Regions from separate parts of the Homo sapiens genome. Here region 2 is linked to region 1. A link means that fine-mapping ties the variant in region 1 to the expression of a gene that starts in the linked region. Tissue or cell type: whole blood. Region 1 holds a variant in brackets; the other region holds the start of a gene. All regions are shown on one strand. Distances are from middle to middle.

The links. PIP is the estimated chance that this variant, and not a neighbour inherited with it, causes the effect.
Region 2: SLC38A10 starts here. The variant in region 1 is fine-mapped to the expression of SLC38A10 in whole blood (TOPMed, PIP above 0.99).

What each region holds. Positions count from the first base shown.
Region 1 is chr17:81,178,040-81,183,219 of GRCh38, reverse strand. PVALEF (parvalbumin like EF-hand containing) reads right to left here. Exons shown (of 7, transcript NM_001354639.2): 3 at 4,068-4,302; 4 at 1,888-2,097; 5 at 1,526-1,661; 6 at 1,139-1,254; 7 at 54-255. The coding sequence starts at 1,993. The coding sequence ends at 209. Among named protein-coding and RNA genes, the nearest start is that of AATK, 14 kb to the right of the region's middle. The variant G/A (reference allele first, on the strand shown) is at 3,036.
Region 2 is chr17:81,292,966-81,298,072 of GRCh38, reverse strand. SLC38A10 (solute carrier family 38 member 10) reads left to right here and starts at 2,766. Exons shown (of 16, transcript NM_001037984.3): 1 at 2,766-3,250. The coding sequence starts at 3,152. It overlaps LOC124904082 (a long non-coding RNA gene), which reads right to left and starts at 167. Exons shown (of 2, transcript XR_007065941.1): 1 at 1-167. RefSeq lists an enhancer at 2,101-2,190 and silencers at 2,851-3,120, 3,221-3,290.

The DNA.
Region 1 (5,180 bases):
GCCCCCACCCCAGTTCATACCAGCATCCCCAACAGACACACCAGGCTGCGTCATTCACTTAATGCTGCTTTTCTTCCATTTTCCTTCAAAAGCTGGGTCCACCCTCACGGCTGCCGCCTCTTACCGGCCCCAACGGCTTCTGCCCAGGTGCGTGGTCACCCCGGTTACCCCATGGGAGCCCCTTGGCTGGCCAGGGCTAGTCATGGTGCTACTTCTTCTTTGGAATTTTCTCCTTTTTGATCAATTCAGAAAATTCTAGAGCAGGAGACCAATTTAAAGTAAGTACCCCTGTTTTGTGTCCCCCAGTTCCTGTAGGCCCTTTAACTCTCAGAGGAGGCAGAGGGAGTGTGCCTGGACTACACAGTCCAGGGGGTCCTGTCCCCAAGTCCTTGAGCAGGGACCAGGCCTCCAGCCCATCTGGCCGGGGGCGGCCCCACGCTGGAGCTGTTTGTCCTGGGCCCAGCTGCTTGGTCGTCACAAGTTGACCCCAGCTGGGGACTGGGGGCTTGCAGTGGCCTGGCTCTCTGCAGAGACTCTCAGGAATTCCCACCAGACCCTCTGAGAGCAGGTGCTCATTGATGATCATCTCTCAGTGGGGAAACTGAGGCACGGAGCAGCTGGGGGGCCTGAGTTCTGAGAGGGGTCAGGATGCCTGTCAAGCCTTGTGACCCCCCCGCCACAAGCCAGGTTTGCTGGGGTTTCTAGACCCAGGCAGATGAGAACGGCCGGTGGCTGGGCAAGCGGTGTCTGGAGGCCCAGCCCACCTTGTGTGCCCTCCACCCTCCAGGCCTGTGGCCAGCCACTGGGGTTGTGTGGGGGTGAGATGGCCCAGACCTCAGGGCAGCCATGGAGAGCCTCAAAGACCGTGGGTCCCCCAGAAGATGGCACCCCGAGCTCTGAGACCCCATACCCGCTGGCTCTGCCACAGTTGGCCTTCCCAAAGCCCTCCTGGCCACCTCTCTGCAGTGGGGCCCTTGGCCCAGGGAAGAGCACCTAGACTCCCGGCCCAGACCCCTGAGCCTGGGTTTCCTCATCTGTGAGTTGTGTGCCAGTGCCCTCGGGGCGGGGCCATGGGCAAGGGTGGCGGCCTAGCAGGGGAAGGAGGGTCCTGAGGGTGCCCCGGCTGTGCTGCCCCCACCTTCGTAGTTGATCCTCCCGTCCCCGTGTGTGTCTGCCGCCTGGATCATGGCCTCGGCCTCCTCGTCTGTCAGCGGGGTGGTGGGCCCGCTGCTGGGGATGATGGACAGGATGTACCTGGGGCCAAGGGGGCTCGAGTCAGGGCCAAGGGGCTTCCGGCCAGTGCCCAGTGACTCACGAGCCGTTCGCCCCCCACCTTGTAGGCAAGGGCACTTCGGGCCGGGAGCCTGGGCCTCTGAGCCTCCTGGGCTTCTAGCTGGTTCTGGCCCAGCCCTGCCAGCTGCAAGGCCAGCGGGGACCCGGTGGGGGAAGGCCGGGTCCGCCATGTGGGCATTCGGCGTGGTCTGGGTGGCCTGGGCCCCACCCCTCCGTGGCCGCCAGCCATTACTTGATCTCGTTCCACTCAATGAAGCCACTCTTGTCCTTGTCCAGGGACTGGAAGGCCGTGTGGATGGCGTCGTCCAGCTGGCCCGAGGCGTGGAGCTTGCGGATGTGCTTGAAGAACTTGAGGTAGTTGAAGGACCCTGGGGCAACCAGGCGGGGCTCACGGAGGGGCCCACCTCACTTGAGCTGGGCCTCCAGGGAAGACCCCGCCCTGGGATGGGGGCTGCCGGGTCCTGCACCCCCATGTCCCCGCCCGCCGCAGGTCCTGGTGTCCTGGACCCATCAGCCCCAGAAAAGGGATGAGGTCTCCTGACCACAGCGGGGCTGGACGGGCGGGGGGCCGCGCCGGGCGGGGGCATGCTGTACCGTGGTGTCTCATGTCTGTGGGCAGCAGCTCAATGTCCTTGTCTGATAGGGACGTGCCCATGGCCAAGGCCATCTTCTTCATCTGGGAGGAGAAGTCCTCCTCCATCCTGGTCCTGGGTGGATAGGGAGTCAATTCGTGGGGTGCACGCACGGATTGGGGGTGCTGCTTGGGCCAGAGCAGACGTAGACGCCGCGTGGTGCTGGATCCTGCTGTAAAGTGGGAATGGTGACAGGCGTCACAGTGTTGGGGTCATGCCAGGGCCCCGAGACATGCTGGGATCCCAGCCAGGCAGGTGGGGGTCTGGGCACAGGCAGAGGGGTCAGCGGGAGGGGCCGGGCCATCCTGTGCGCCTCACGGCAGCGCCTTGTGACCTGCTGGGCTCTCAGGTTGCCGTCCCCAGGGGGGGTTGGGTTCTGGGGCTCAGCACAGCAGCTATCTCAGAGCGCAAGGGGAAGCGGGTGTCCTGGGCTTCTTGGCCCTCGTGAAAGTTCACAGGGTGGTAGAGCCTTCTGGAACGCTCTTGCTGCCAGGAGGGGCGGCCTGTGTTCTCGAGTGGGGCTGAGCAGTGGCCAGAGGCATCTCTGCTCTCCTCTGGATAGAGAGGCCATAGGTCAAGGGTTGCAACCCAACCCTGGCGCCCCAGAGGTGTGAGGAGCGCCAGTTGCAGCCCCTGGACCAGGTCCTGCTCCCCAACCCTCGGTGCCTCCAGCTGCCATGTGATGTGGGGAGACGCCTGCCCCTTCACAGGGTTGTGCGAGGAGCCAGGAGGGAAGGGAGATGGTGGGGAATGGGCTTGCCCGCTGCTGTGGGGCTGGAGCTGGGCCCCCACAGCCCCTGCAGTGGCTGATTCCCCCAGCCAGCAGGGTGGTGGTGAGCGGGCATGTGGGGCAGGACTGGGCCTCGGAGGCCCTCAGGACAGGCCCCGCCCCACTTCATTCAGAGCTGGGACTCTGGCTCACCTTCCCCAACCCTGGCATCTTGGGGACCTGTTTTGGAAGAGGGAACACCCACCTACCACTCGGGGCCCCGGGCCCAATGTCACCTCCTTTACAGAGGAGGGGCTGGGCCGAATTCCAGGCTAAATGTGGCCAAGCCAGGAACCAATGTCCCATCTGCCCAGTGCTGGGGGTGCCCCTGGGCTGGGCTC[G/A]TTCACCACCCCCAATCCCACTGCTCTCAGGGGTGCCCCCAACGAAGGCAGGGGAGCCCGAGATCCGGGCTGGAGACAGGGTGGGAGGCAGGCCTGGAGCTCCAGGCTGCTGGTTTATTTATAGCTCGTGCATCCGCGGCCCGGGCTGGAGTTTAATGGGATCCCAGTGAGCTGGGATGTCCGGCCGGGGGAGGCTGCGGGACGCCACACAAGCTGTCCTTGGGCCCTGCTCAGATTCTGGGGGCTGCCCTCAGTGCCAGGAAAGGCCCTGCCAAAAGGCCTCTGTTTCCCCACTCCCTTTACCCACCCTCCACAGCTAGAGATCCTGGAGCCTCCAGGCTGGGCTAAGACCCCTCAGACCACACACCGCCCCAGCATTGCTACATCTGGGATGCCCTGCTCCGGGCCATTCCCGACCTTCCATTCTCGGAAGCTGTGGTCTGCCCACAGCAACTAGCCTCTGCCACCCAGTCTCCAAGGGCAGATGCTGAGATGAGAGAGGCCTCTCGGGGGAAGGGGTGATAGAGGCAGTGGGGTCCCTCTGGGTCAGGGGCAGAGTGTGGGGACCAGAGCCGGCTCTGTGTGCCTGCTGGAGTCCGGGGGCCAGAGGCCTTGGACTCGCTGCCCTGCCAGCCCCACCCCATCTCCATCCCCACTTAGAGCCTGGGGGCCTAGGGACAGAGTGAGCAGGTCCAGCTCCCTATGCAGAGGCCCCAGCTCACAGCCGCCTCTTGTAGCCGTGCCCACAGAGGCTCGTGCCAGCACACACGTGCACACATGTGCTCCCCGCAGGACCAGGCACCTGCAGCTGTCTTCCATCCGGGGGCCCCCTTGGGGCTTGTAGTGGTGCTGCTGGCAGGGAGGGCCATTCCTTCTGTTTCCACCCCATTTCCCCACCTCCCCTGGGTCCCCTGGGGTCTCCCAGGGCCACCCTTGTCCTGTGGATGAAGAGAAGGCCTCCAAGTTCCCACCATCCAGCTCGGATAACCTCAGCGGCCAGAGACCCACACCCCCCTCCTTGGCAGGGCTTACCTCTGCCTGGCTTCTTTCGAGAGTTCTGGAAGGTGGGTCAGGCTGGGGTGTGGAGAGGCCCAGGGGCTCCAGCTTTTATACCTGCAAGCCTGTTTACATCTCGGGGCTGCAGCTGTCCTCGCCCCTCCCCGGCACTCCAGCCTGGCACGGGCAGCTCCCAGGGGCTCGCAGGCACTTGGTGTGTCCACACTGGTCTGGGCAGACTGACCCTTAGCAGTGCCTGGCCTCCCCAAACCTGGGGCGGGGTTAGGGAGGAAGAGAGGGCACCAGTGAGCCAGTGAGCAGGTGACCGAGGCCAGCTGGGCAGACAGCAGCTGGAAGCCTGAGGTCAGAGGGGCTGAGGGACCTGCCCAAGGTCATGGTGCTGGAACCCACGCCTCGGGCCTCCAGTGCAGCGGGTTGTACACAGTGGGAGGGGCTGCGGGCGGTGGGGGTGGTGCAGGGAGATTGAGGCTGGGGACCCTGCCCCCCCCAGCTCTGGTGCAGGAAACAGGTTGCAGGGCCAGACATGTGAGTGGGGTTTGAAGGGGCAGCCGAGTGGGTGCTGCGGCCCAGCCTGCGGGCTTGGGCCGGGTGGAAGGGGCACAGCACAGCCTGCAGGCCGGTGGGGGTGGGGAGGCTCCAAGTTCATATGGGACAAAGTTTATCCAAGCCACGTCCTCCTCCCAAACCACCCTCCCCTGGTGGTGAGCAGGGAGGGCCAAGGTGATCCCTGGCTGGCTCTGAATACACCAGGGGCACGGTTACCTTCTGCCAGGGAGGGTGGTGCCAACAGCCCTGCCCCTGTGGGGTGGTCATGCTGGGCACCGCAGGCCTGTGAGGAAGCCAGGGATGGGGCTGTCTGCCGGGGTCGGGGGGGCCTGGCTTTCTACTGGAAGCCACAGGACTGCCCGGGCCTCTTACATAGGCCGTGGTAGCCTCTGCTCATGTTGGAGGTGGGAGGGTATTGTCCTCACTAATGAAGGTGACGGTCATGATATGTGACAGGTGACAATGAATGTAATAACAGTGTCATCTGCCATTGGCGGGGCCCCAGGGGTCTCAGCAGCCTCTTGAGGGAGGCTGCATTATCCTCCTTCTTCAAGAGACCCCAGGAGATGAGGAGACGAATCC
Region 2 (5,107 bases), 110 kb before region 1:
GAAGGAGCGGCAGACCCCCTCCTAAGAAATGACCTAGAAGTTTCTCCTGTCATTTCTGCTTCTTATTGTCCAAAACTTGGTCACATAGCCAGCCCTACCTGCAAGGGACACTGGCAAGTGTATTCTTTTTTTTTTTTTTTGAGACGGAGTCTCACTCTGTCGCCAGGCTGGAGTGCTGTGGCGCGATCTCGGCTCACTGCAACCTCCGACTCCCTGGTTCAAGCGATTCTCCTGCCTCAGCCTCCTGAGTGGCTGGGATTACAGGCACACACCATCACGCCCGGCTAATTTTTGTATTTTTAGTAGACAGAGTTTCACCATATTGGCCAGGATGGTCTCGATCTCCTGACCTCGTGATCCACCCACCTTGGCCTCCCAAAGTGCTGGGATTACAGGCGTGTGCCACCGCGCCCAGTCTTTTATTTATTTTTTTGAGACAAAGTCTTGCCCTGTTGCCCAGGCTGGAGTGCAATGGCACGCTCTTGGCTCACGGCAACCTCTGCCTCCCGGGTTCAAGCGATTCTCCTGGCTCAGCCTCCCAAGAACCTGGGATTACAGGTGCGCGCCACCACGCCTGGCTAATTTTTTGTATCTTTAGCAGAGATGGGGTTTCACCATGTTTGCCAGGCTGGCCTCAAATTCCTGACCTCGTGATCTGCCTGCCTCGGCCTCTCAAAGTGCTGGGATTACAGGTGTGAGCCGCCATGCTCGGCTGGAAGTGTATTTTTTATCCTAGGCAGTCATACGTGCAGGCCAATTCCTATTAATTTGGAAAATGGAATAAACGAATATTAAGAGACAGAGAGTCAGCTGGGCGCAGTGGCTCACGCCTGTAATCCCAGCACTTTGGGAGGCCGAGGTGAGCAGATCGATTGAACCCAGGAGTTTGAGACCAGCCTGGACAACATGACAAAATCCCATCTCTACAAAAAAAGTGAAAATTAGCTGGGCATGGTGGCACACACCTGTAGTTTCAGCTACTGAGGGCCTGAAGTGGGAGGATCACTTTAGCCCAGGAGGGAAAGGCTGAAGCAAGCTGAGATTGTGCCACTGCACTCCAGACTGGGTGACAGAGTGAGACTCTGTCTCAAAAAAAAAAAAAAAAGAGACAAATAGTCTTCCCCATAATTGTTTAGGGATATATCCATATATGGTAAACCTTTAAAGAAAAGTAATGAATTGATGGAATCTGGATTGTGATGTCTCAGGATAGCAGGGAAGAGGGGAAGAAGGTGCTGGAACTGGGGAGGAACTGAAAGGGAGGATCTAAGTCTTCGGTAATATTTTGTTCTTAAAGCTCAATAGCGGGTCCATGGTATTTGCTATTTGTGAAAACATACATGTAAATTGCCCAGCCTACCTCGCATGCATAACATTTGATGAAAATTACATAATAAAAAGGAGGTTATGGAATGTGTATGCCATTTCATTTATATAAAAGTAAATGGGCTGGGTGCGGTGGCTCATGCCTGTAATACCAGCACTTTGGGAGGCCGAGGTGGGCGGATCACCTGAGGTCGGGAGTTTGAGGCAAGCCTGGCCACCATGGTGAAACCTGGTCTCTACTAAAAATACAAAAATTAGCCGGGTGTGGTGGCGGGAGCCTGTAATTCCAGCTACTTGGGAGGCTGAGGCATGAGAATAGCTTGAACCTGGGAGGTGGAGGTTGCAGTGAGCCAAGATCACACCACTGCATATACAGCCTGGGCGACAGAGCAAGACTCTGACTGAAGAAAAAAAAAAAAAAGAACGCAGGCATTTGTTATTTTGCCTGCGTATTTAATTAGTCTTTACCCAGGCATTTCCTCCTGTTCTCCTGAAGGTGGGGCACAGCCTTACTTGGTGGCTGCACTGCCAGTGCCTGAGGAACGGGCCTCTGTTCTAAGACACCTGGTCCTGCAGGTGCTGCAGACACGGCCTCCTTTCCTCCGCCGTCCTCCCCCAGCAGCCTGGAATCACTTGCTGCTTCCCAGCCATTCGGTCTACGCGCTCATTCATTAGACTCAGAGTGAGCAGCTAGGTGCCAGGAATCCACAGATCTATCGGGACCCTTCTCTGTTCTCTCCTCTCCCCGGTCTCCATTTCTACCCGAGGAATTCTCATTTGTCCTTCAAGCTCCAGCCTAGAAGCCACCTCCTTCTGGAAGCCCTCCCGGGTTTCCCTGTTCATGTAAGCCTCCACCTCTCCTGTCCCCTCCAGGAATGTCCCTTGCTCTTTTCGTGTGAAAAGGTGAAGTTCAACATTGCCACTGATCTGGGCGCAGTTCGGCAGGGCACCGCCTCCCCTTGGAGCTGTGTGGCCTTAGCGGAGTGGCCGAGCCTCTCTGTGCCCAGCGTTTCATTCCTACCTCCTAGGTGCTAATTCCTCACAACAGACTATTTTTCGGCTGAGGCAGTCAGGGCCCCCGCCCCCGTGCCCTGGCGCCAAGCACTCGCCCCAGAATCGGTCCTGGGAATAAAGGTCAAAAAGGAACCCTTAAACCCGCTCCTCCCCGGAAGGCACAGCGCCTCCCCTTCTCTCCAGCCCGCGACTGCCCATCCAAACCGAGGCCTCGCGGGGCGAGTCCCTTGTCCTCCAGCTCGTTGAACTGGGGCCCCGGGCACAGGTCGGCTGGACCAGCTTGGCGAACCGGACAGCTGCGAGACCCTCAGGTGCCCACCGGCCCAGTTTCCGCCCGCCCCTCCGGGCCCGCCTCTCATTGGCTCGCGTCCCACCAAACCCTACCCCCTGGCCGTCACTTCCGGGCAACGGAGCCCGTGGAAGGCGGAAGTGTGAGCGCCGCGGCGGCAGCTGAGTTGGGCTGAGGTGTCCCTAGCTGGCTCTGCGGCTCTTCCGGGTCTGGGCTCGGAGATTCACAGGCGGCCCGCGAGGCCGAGCGAGGGACGCATGGCCCTGAGGCGGCCGCAGGGCTTGGCGGGGTCCGGAGGTTGACCTCGCCCCCGCAGCCGGCCTTCGAGGCTGCCTCCTCCAGGCAGCCTCTGGGGCCCGCGCCCGCGCCTGCTCAGGCTCCCGTGTTCAGGCTGCCCATCCCCTCCCCACCGGCGTCCCGGACGTTGGGACCTGTGACCGTGGCCTCGGGCTGGGCTTCCAAAGCCGGCCGCAGCCCGGCGACCCCCGAGGCCTCTCGCCCCGGGCCCCTAGACCTCTCACTATGACCGCGGCCGCCGCCTCCAACTGGGGGCTGATCACGAACATCGTGAACAGCATCGTAGGGGTCAGTGTCCTCACCATGCCCTTCTGCTTCAAACAGGTGAGTCCGGTGGGCCCGGAGATCACCGCCCTCGCCTCCCCCGCAGAGGGGGCGTCTGGCTGGGTCGTCCTGGTTAAAGTTCCCGCCGGGGCAGGGCTTCGCTGGGCGGGTGCAGGCGGCCGCGGGCGGGGCGACCCTCTGGGTCCCGGCGCAGTTCCCGTAGAGAATCCGTGGATGAGAAGCGCACGGCGTTGGCCCTGGCAGCCCTTGTCAGCCCGGGCCGGAAAGTTCCCCACACTCAAAAACTCGATACCGAAGCAAAGTGTAACAAAGCAAAATGATCCTCCAGAATCGGAAGGGAACGGTGGGACTCCGTATTTTTACATTTTATCGTGTTTTTAAAAACTCTGACCCAACTGCACCTGTCTTCAGAAGCACACAACTCACCACTCCCAGGCTTCGACACTAGATAGGGACCTTGGTTGCAAGGTGATTAAAAACATCCACCAGGTTATACACCTAAGATCTGCGTTTCACAAAAACCGCACATTTGGCAGGGGGTGGTGGCTCACACCTGTAATCCCAGCACTTTGGGAGGCCGAGGCGAGTGGATCACCTGAGGTCAGGAGTTCGAGAACTGCCTGACCAACATGCTGAAACCCCATCTCTACTGAAAATACAAAAATTAGCCGGGGGTGGTGGCACATGCCTGTAATCCCAGATACTTGGGAGGCTGAGACAGGAGAATAGCTTGAACCTGGGAGGCGAAGGTTTCAATGAGCCGAAGGTTGCAGTGAGCCGAGATCACGCCATTGCACTCCAGCCTGGGCGACAGAGGGAGACTCCGTCTCAAAAACAAAAACAAAAAACTGCACATTTGATCTAATGTGTGCAGACGTTACCACAGTTGGAAAAAATCTCAAATACAAAAAGTTTAGCGTCATTCCAGCATTGAATAACACATGAAAGAAAATGGCCATTTCTAAGTGTCATCTGTTTAATCTACAATAAACAAGCATTTAGTGCTTTGGAAAAGAAAGGCTGACTGAAACGTTACCAAGTAGGTAGAAAAATGAAAACAACATGTATATTTTGAAACAAAGTGGCACCAGTAGTTTAATTTTAGATTAGCTTAGCAAACACTGTGTTTTTCATATTCATTATCTTTGGAATAAAAATATCCAAAAAATTTTTTCAGCCTGGGCAACATAGTAAGACCCCGTCTCTACAAAAAAAATTAAAAGTTAGCTGGGCATGGTGGTGCATACCTGTAGTCTCAGCTGCTCGGGAGGCTGAGGCAGAAGGATCACTTGAGCCCAGGAGTTTGAGATTACAGTGAGCTATGATTGCACCACTGCACTCCAGCCTGGGCAACACAACAGTACCCCATCTCTAAAAAAAAAACAACTTTTTTTTGATCAAGGAATTTTCAAACCCTCCCGTGCAGCCCTCCAGGCTGTTGTGTCTGAGTTGTTTGCCTGATATGGTTGGTGAGCCTGTCAGGGGAAGACAGGGCTACATGCCTCCAGAGCCCCCCGGGCAGCATCTGGTCTGGGCGTGGAGAATCCCAGCTTTCTGCCAGCCACCTCTGGGTGTTTCTGGACTGACTCCATGTCCCAGTGTCCACTGTGACTTGCCTGGCAGCAGAACTGCATTCTGGCATGTGGAGCAGTAGCTGGTCCTTCTCCTGCAAGTCAAAGACTGTTATCTTTGTTTTTTCAAGACGGAGTCTCGCTCTGTCACCCAGGCTGGAGTGCAGTGGTGCAGTCTCGGCTCACTGCAACCTCTGCCTCCAGGGTTCGAGTGATTCTCCTGCCTCAGCCTCCCAAGTAGCTGGGATTACAGGCATGTGCCACCACGCCGGCTAATTTATTTATTTATTTATTTATTTATTTGTATTTAGTAGAGACAGGGTTT